2 separate regions of the Homo sapiens genome follow, and region 1 is linked to region 2. The links come from fine-mapping of genetic effects on gene expression. A gene starts in region 2. The other region holds a variant in brackets. All regions are shown on one strand. Distances are between the middles of the regions. Region 1 overlaps KIAA0753. Region 2 holds the start of MED31 (mediator complex subunit 31).

The links. PIP is the estimated chance that this variant, and not a neighbour inherited with it, causes the effect.
Region 1: its variant is the best candidate, but not a certain one, in a credible set for the expression of MED31 in CD4 T cells (Kasela 2017, PIP 0.83).

What each region holds. Positions count from the first base shown.
Region 1 is chr17:6,608,174-6,612,173 of GRCh38, reverse strand. KIAA0753 reads left to right here. Exons shown (of 19, transcript NM_014804.3): 8 at 26-255; 9 at 2,014-2,180; 10 at 3,710-3,826. Among named protein-coding and RNA genes, the nearest start is that of KIAA0753, 31 kb to the left of the region's middle. The variant G/AAG (reference allele first, on the strand shown) is at 1,658.
Region 2 is chr17:6,649,108-6,653,631 of GRCh38, reverse strand. MED31 (mediator complex subunit 31) reads left to right here and starts at 2,027. Exons shown (of 4, transcript NM_016060.3): 1 at 2,027-2,131; 2 at 3,199-3,276; 3 at 3,554-3,650. The coding sequence starts at 2,104. It overlaps C17orf100 (chromosome 17 open reading frame 100), which reads right to left and starts at 1,870. Exons shown (of 1, transcript NM_001105520.2): 1 at 156-1,870. The coding sequence starts at 1,718. The coding sequence ends at 1,362. RefSeq lists silencers at 1,503-1,552, 1,853-1,932 and enhancers at 2,183-2,312, 2,383-2,462, 2,553-2,612.

The DNA.
Region 1 (4,000 bases), 41 kb after region 2:
TTGTTTTTCAAAAATTTCCATGTAGATAAGTATCAGCCCGATACGGAGCTTCCGGAGACCCAGAGGTTGCAGAGTGAGCTTGATGTATTAGATGCGGATATAGTTCTGGAAGAAGGACCATTTATTCTAGACCAAAGTGCAAGCTTCAAAGACGAGGTGTTAGCCGTGGCAAAAACAAAAGCAGGGAAAAAGAAGCCTGTGACTGAGAATGTGCCGTTTAGGAAGAAAGATACTCTGGCGCCAGCAAGACAGCAAGTATGAAATCATTCCTCTCTTTTGGCCCATTTGTGTTAATCTGACATTGTCAAGGTCACATAAACTGGTATATGGTGGAGCCAGTTCTCAGGCAATTGGATGCTGCAGTCCTTGAGTCTGGCTATTTAAGTTGTTTATATATTTTAACAAAAAAATAACAATTTTTAATATTGTTACTAGAATAGAGAATTCTTTCTATTCCTGGTTTGGTAAGATCCTAACTAATATGATACCAATATCCTAATTGGGCAGGAGATTTTAAAATTCAGTTTTTTTTCTGCTTCTGATTTGGAAGTGTGAGACTTGAGGGGATTAAGATTTGGTTCCTGCCGGGTGTGGTGTCTCAGGCCTATAATCCCAGCAATTTGGGAAGCGAGAGGATTGCTTGAGGCCAGGAGTTTAAGACCAGCCTGGGCAACATAGTGAGACCCCATCTCTACTAAAAACAAAATTAGCCAGATGTGGTAACTCATGCTTGTAGTCCCAGCTATTTGGGAGCCTGAGGCAGGAAGATCACTTGATCCCAGGAGTTTGAAGCTGCAGTGAGCTGTGATCGATCCACTGTACTCCAGCCTGGGCAACAGAGTAAGACCCTGTCTTAAAGAAAAAAAAAAATTAGTTCCTGCTAAAGATAAATATCGATCAATAATAATTACTGCATATTAAAAGGGCATCCTAGGGTGAGTGCTTTCTAATATGGCTTTGGGAGCCAGCAGGGTACAACTTGATTTGAAACTACATTATATTTTAAGCTTCTGTTTAAAACTTACTTATGGCCCTATCAGTGGAAAACTGGCCAAAAGACCACCTCCTGGTCGAATACCCTTATTGTATTAGTGACATTTGGTGGTCTTGCCCAAAGGCTTCTTTAGCAAATCTGTTTATTTTCAGGTGGCCTCCAGAAAAGGAGAGTTAGCAGTTATCCCAAGTTATTGACAGATAATGGATTAGGATCAAGTCTGTTTCTTCCCAAACTTCTATGGCAGGGGGCGACCATGAATCATTGAGATGTCAAGATTGAACCTGTAGGAATTCAGATGGGTGCGCCTCTCCACAGACAGCCCGCATTCTCGATAACATTTTTTAAATCGCTAGATTCATTCTATTTAGACCTAAGGCCCAGAGAGGTTAAGTATTTTTATGAAAAATGTTTTACTCATTACTTGAGCCCAGGAGTTCAAGACCAGCCTGGACAACACAGTGAGACCCTGGCTCTACAAAAAATAAAAAATTAGCCAGGCATGGTATCTAACACTTGTGATCCCAGCTATTCAGGAGGCTAAGGCAGGAGAATCGCTTGAGCCCAGGAGTTTGAGGCTGCAGTGAGCTATGATCATACCTCTGCACTCCAGCCTAGGCAACAGAGCAAGACCCTGTCTCTTAAAAAAAAAAAAAAAAAAAA[G/AAG]AGAAAGAAAAGAAAAAAGAAAAATAATTTAACAATATGGTATGAAATTTTTTTTGTTTAATTAGGAAACAAATTGTGAATAAATAAAAATATATTTTATATATTGTTTATATGTTTAAAGGTGTCAGGCAGAGCCAGGGATTTAAATTCTACACCCTCCACCCCCCGCCCCTACCATGGTTGTTTCAATGAAATTTACACCCTCCCCCAAATTTCTGCCACAGTGCTTTCTACTCAGGTTTTACCGAATGGATGCATGAATAACATGGAGAACTTGGAGCTTCAGTGAGTCAGAGGTTAAACCATAGTTTCTTTGGTATTTGTGTGGCCTTATAATTCTTACTTATCTCTCACAGGGACTCCGCAAAGCTGAAAGAGGTAGACAAAGCCAACCTCACAGTAAAAGCAGAGTGCAGCAGACAACAGTTTCATCCAGATTAAAAATGAACCGGCAGCCTGTGAAAGACCGCAAGGCACCATGGATACCCCCAAACCCCACATCCCCACCAGCGTCTCCTAAATGGTATGTGAAAACTCAAGGGACCGTTTGTGTATGTGATGCTCTTTTTCCTCCATATATCAAAGGTGACCTGTAGCTTATAAGGAGCAAATTAAGTAGTAGCCTTAATTTTTTCCATTAAGCAGAAATCCTTTTTTGGGTGAGTCATACATGAGAAGTCTTTGTCTGGAAGCTTGTTGGTTCCTTCTTCTGCCTGACTGTGGTTGGAACACCCTTCCATGGGCCACCCCAACACCGGGACATGTGTGATTGAATGGAAGATGGGGGGCTTCCCTTCACTTGTCTCTTCTGCCAATAGATTCTAGTAACTTGAGGCCAGGGACTGTGTCTTTTTTATATTCTTTTTTATATTTGAATGTCCAGTGCTAGTCACATAGTAGGCATTCAGTAAATCTTTGCTGAGTAAATAAATATTTTAAAATAATTCTAACTCTAAGTCAAGATAATTATGAACTATAAAACTATATAGATCTCACCAACACTGTCTTAGCTGCAGGGAGCAATTAGGATAATGTTGATGTTACTGTCTTGTCATCCTCACTCATAGCACATTAGAATGAGAAGCTGCCATTTCACAGGGCTAGAGAGAAGAGGAGCAGGGTCCAGTTAGGTGGAAATAATCTTTAGGGGAATCGGTTGAAGATAAAGGGGAGCTCGTTTGCCGTGAGGCAGTAGTTTTTGAAAACACAATGGAAAGGACCAGGAGGTGGAACAGAAAAAGGAAAGAAGTAAAAAGCAGTCATGTCAGGGGAGAAGGGAGAAGATAGGTGACTACAGGGTTCTGTCTTTGGAGCCATCAGAAGTCAGGGTGAGCAGCTTGGTGGAAGAGAAGCCCCCTAAGATTCCGAATGAGTGTGAAGGAATGGCCGTGCTCATCCATCCACTCTCATTTTCAAGTTAAGGAAACAATGTTTAGAGAATTTAATGTCTTATTCATGTAACAGCCAGACCTAAAATCAGGTCTTCTGACTTCATAATGTGCTTTTTTTGTTTTTATTACTCTATTCTGTTTTCTGTATTTTTGTATACAAGTATTAATATGGAGATTTACATTCAGTTGATAAGCTCAGTGGTTGAAGTTTGTATTACAAACCAAATATACAATGGACTGTCTTTTAGAGTGCATGTGTGGTGGGTAGAGGAGGGTGGGTGAGGCTTCTAGGCTCAACAGTGCTGTTAGGCCTTATAAAGATACGGAGTTGCCTTATAATATGGAATGTAATTAGTGATCCAAATCTATGTATTGTGACAGAGTTTTGTTGACACTCACCCAATATTCTGTAATTGATCACTGTTTCTCATTTAAAATGGTGATGGCTTCTTTGAAGCAAAGGAGAATTTCTGCCCTTTGACACTGTGCCTGAGTGCGGGAGGATCTCACTTTTCTTCACATTCAGCTTCTACTGTAGGGCCCCGTGCTACAGATCACCATTAATTTAATGCTGTTGTCATCTCTGAGCTGGCACCTACTTGGATGAGTCATTGGATACGGAGTGAATGATGACAAAGGTATGCTTTTCCATTTATTTCAGTGCTGCATGGCTAAAGGTGAAAACTAGCCCCAGAGATGCCACAAAAGAGCCTCTCCAGCAAGAAGATCCTCAAGAGGAAAGTCACCTGACAGGTGCTGTTGAGCATGAAGCAGCCAGGTTTGTGCTGGTATTTTTCAGATCTTTGAGAATTAAAGAGCTCCTTTTACATAGACTTGGAAGTGAACCCTTTCTTCTCTTTCCTACATTTAAAGTTGGTTATTTAAAATGTAGATTATTTTTAAAAATAGAATAAATACATAAAATGTAGTTTATTAAACGTTTCAGTCAAAC
Region 2 (4,524 bases):
AAGCTGGTTCCCATCCACCCTTTGTATTTGCTGTTCTTCTGCCTAGAATGCACCTGTTCCAGATCACTGTTCATTCACACATATCTCAGATTACATGTTAACTAATCAGCAAGGCCTTCCCTGACCATTTTATCAAAAGAAGCCACTTACTTCCATTCTCTATCACATTACCCATGTATTTCCTTCATAGTGCTAATCACAATAGAAAATTGTCTTGTTTCATCATTGCTTGTCTGCCTTTTCACCAGAGTGTAAGCTCCACTAGAGCTGGGACTTTGCCTTTTTTACTGCTATAGCCCAAGTTCCCAGAATACAGACAGTTCCCAACTTAAGATGGTTTGACTTATGATTTTTCGACTTTACAATGGTACAAAAGTGACATTCAGTAGAAATAGTACTTTAAGTACTCTTACAACCATTCTTTTTCACTTTTAGTACAGTATGCAATAAATTACATGAGATATTCAACATTTTATTATAAAACAGGCTTTCTGTTAGATGATTTTGCTCAACTTTAGGTGTTCTGAGCATGTTTAAGGTAGGCTAGGCTAAGCCATGATGTTTAGTAGGTTAGGGGTATTAAGTGCATTTTCAAATTACCATATTTTCAACTTACAATAGTTTCAACGGGAGGTAACCCCATCGTAAGTGGAGGAACATCTAGTGCCTGGCACAGAGCCGGTTCTCAATAAATATAACTCTTCTCCATCTTCTTCAAACCTCAGGCCAGGTTTCAGTGACCTCCTCTCACTTTCTAAGATTATTTTTGCTTGCTGGTGGGTTTACTGTCATTTTTAACCACATCTAACCTACCTTAAAAAAGTGTATGGATGGGGGTGCCAGGTACAAAGACTTAGCATAAAGAAAACGACCATTTACTTTGAAACATAAACAAAGGCCAATTAATAATTTATGAGTCTGTTCCTTGTCCCTCGAGTTTTTAGCAGGCATGGAATCATTCCACAGGTCATTATTTCAGTTTGGTCTCTGTTCCTAAGGGGTGAAGGTTTTCTGAGGGCTGTGGATCCCAAACTCACCTGGCTCAGAGGCTCAAACAGCCTCTCTTTGTCCATCAACCCGATTTAGACAGCATCCTGGGCCTGAAAACCTTCTGTGCTGGCTTCAAGTGAAAATAGTTCACTGGGTCAAAAGTAGGCTGGTCCAAGACGCAGGACGGTCAGTAAACGTTGGCTGTGTTCAGAAACTGCGGCTTGGCTGTTTCTTACATTGATTTATGGTTTGTTTCCATGAAACCGAAAATGATTGGTCCACCTGGCAGCTGGCTGGCTGGCTGGCAACTGGAGGCCTTTCTGTCCTGGCTGAGGGCCCTGGCCCCTTGGTGGCCTTTGGGAAGCAGCATCTCATCGGGCCGTTTTTTCGTTCTGGCGGGCGGCCGGCTTGGCCCGCGGGGTCGGGCTCTCCGCGCAGTGCAGAGACGTCTCCACCCTCAGGGACGAGGCTCTGACGTGGCGGGAGGTCGTTTCCGTGCGCTGCGAGGAGGATTCCACGTGCCGGGAGGACGCCTCGAGGATGCGAGGGAGCCGCTTCCCCGAGGGGGAGAGGGAGGGCCCCTCGCTGCGGCGCTGGGAGGTCTCCACCCGCCGGGACGACGTCTCCACGCGGTGGGACGAGGTCTCCACGCGGACCGTGGACGTCTCTGTGTAGCGGGTGGTCCCCACCCGGGGCGAAGACTGCTTGGCCCCTCGGGCTGAGGCCATTCTGCCGGCGTGAGGGGGCCAGGGAGGCCTCGGGGCACCCTACAGCCCAATGGTCACCGCAGGCAGAAGAGAGGAAAACTACGGTACTGCCATAGCCGGGAGCGCCACAACACGATGACGTGGAAGCACCATGGTCCTTCGAAGGCTAAAACACTGGACTCCTGCCCCTCAGGCGCTCCCACGGCCCGGGCCCCGCCCCCTCGCTATTTTGGAGCCAGCGCGGGTGGAGCCATCCCAGGGCTGGTCGGGGATGGGCGGAGCCGCCCCGCCCCATATCCCACAGTGCCCCGGGACCGGAAGAGGGAGCCGTGGTTTCCGGAACTTCGCCCGCGTCTCTGGGCTTTTGCTCTGTCAGGCTGGTGGCGTTTTGGTGTCTTCGTTTGTTATGGCCGCTGCTGTCGCTATGGAGACAGGTGAGTAGCTCTCTGATCTTGGAGTCTTCGCAGATGGAACTCTCCTTGACCCAGACCTCTTCCCCGTGGCCTCCTTCCAGGCCTTACTCTTGGCAGGGTTAATATTTGGACAGAGAGGAGAGAAGGCTCTTGTAGCGTCTAGAAAGACTAAGGTACTCTTTGCAGTTTTCCTGATTTGGTTTGTTCGCACATCTTTGCTATTCAGACACCACCCCACCAGCTCCCTGGCGTGGGTGAGACTAAGGGAGAGGACTTGTGTGTTAAACCGTGTCCTCCTTGATTGGTTTTCTGCTTCTCACATGAGCTTGCCTAAGTTTGAAATATCGTCGCCAGACTTGTGTATCATTCTGCTACTGGTGCTTCTTTTTTTTTTTTTTTTTGAGACAGCGTCTGGCTCTGTCGCCCAGGCTGGGGTGCAGTGGCGCGATCTCGGCTCACTGCAAGCTCCGCCTCCTGGGTTCACGCCATTCTCCTGCCTCAGCCTCTCAAGTAGCTGGGACTACAGGAGCCCGCCACCGCTCCCGGCTAATTTTTTTTGTATTTTTAGTAGAGACGGGGTTTCACTGTGTTAGCCAGGATGGTCTCGATCTCCTGACCCTGGTGCTTCTTATATGCATGCGCTGCATGATCTTTTAGGCTCTCCGCAGTCTCTTGCATCCTAAGTTTTTCTTTACTGATTCAGCCCCTAGCGTTTGCGAAACTTAATCACTGTTAACAGTTGTTACAACGCATTATTAAAATAGGGGAAGCCACAGTTATTACAGCCTACCTTAGTGATCACTGTTAAAATTCCTACATAGTGGCCCACGAGTGGTAGGAATTCTCCGTTTGTGTTGCTGTTTTCTTTGATGATTTCTCTTTAACTTTAGAGAAACTTCTAACTTACTCCTTTTAATCAGGGCTCCGCTTTTCTTAGATTTCGAAGGAAGGTTTATCTCCTCCCACTCCTAGTTTAGGAAGACCATCTCAACATTAGTCAGGTTTCTTTATTGCTCTTTCCTTACTACAAATCAGTATTATATACAGTGACCTTTGTTTTCCATGATTTTTGCTGTCTTGTCTCCTAGATGATGCTGGAAATCGACTTCGGTTTCAGTTGGAGTTGGAATTTGTGCAATGTTTAGCCAACCCAAATTACCTTAATTGTAAGTTGTTAAGCACCTCATTAAATTGAGTAGCTATTAATGATTTCTGACAGAAGAGTTGCAGTTCAAAATAGTATCTACTTTTACACATTCTCAGTTGAATGACATTACACTTATGCTGGTATATAGATATAATTGCGTACTGGGACTTGTGTTTTGAATCCAATGTGTGTTGGTGGTGGGGGTGTTATGTAAATAGATCCTTTATATTAGGGGTAACAAATCACAGTTTAAGGATTGGTTTGACCTACAGATTTTTTTTTTTAATGCTTTTCAGTTCTTGCCCAAAGAGGTTACTTCAAAGACAAAGCTTTTGTTAATTATCTTAAATACTTGCTTTACTGGAAAGACCCAGAATATGCCAAGTATCTAAAGTAAGTTTAATTTTTATAATCCTAAGCATGTGTATACTTTATTATATAATAGATTTCTTAGTTTCACATTGGCAAAAATGTATTTGGAATCTCTCCACTTCTTTTTGTTATCACCGTCTTAATACAAGACACCCTCATCTCTAACTTGTAACACTGCAGTAATCTACTCCCTGGTTATCTGTGCTTCCACTTTTACCTTCCTGCCCCCATCTCCACCCCAACCCAAACCAAGCAAAACAGCTTTCTACACAGAAACCAGCTTAATCTTTTAAAAATATAAATCAGAACACTTTACTTTCTTGCTTAGAACCTTTCAATGGCTTTCCATTCCATGCAGAATAAAATCCAGTCTTTTTTCTTGGACTAAAGCCTTATACGATCTGGCCCTGCCTTTTCTGACCTTGTCTTTTACCACCCTTCCCATCTCACCAGGTTTCTGGTCCCTAAGAACTCACAATCTGTAAATGTAGTAGCATAAGCCATGGGCTGAAATTAAAAGAGGGTATCTGTAAGGAAGGTGTTTCTGGGGTTATTTGAAGGAGGTGATCTTACCTGAGTCTTAGAGTTGCTGTCTTTTATTTAAGGCCTCTTATTTGCCAGGAACAGTGCTAAATGCTTCATATGCATTAACTCATTTATATATATATATTTACCATTCAGGTCGTTCAGCAGACACTTTCATGTTAAGGCTTACTAAGTTGCAAGAAACATATTATAACCACAAAGCAATTCCCTTTTAATGGTTAAAAAAAAAAAACAAAAAAAACAAAAAAAACCAACCCACCTTGAACTCACACCCCTGCTTTGTCTTAAGCAGGTAGAAAGCAATAATGAACCTTTAAAAAAAAAAAAAAGTTTGAGAGGAAAATGTTTC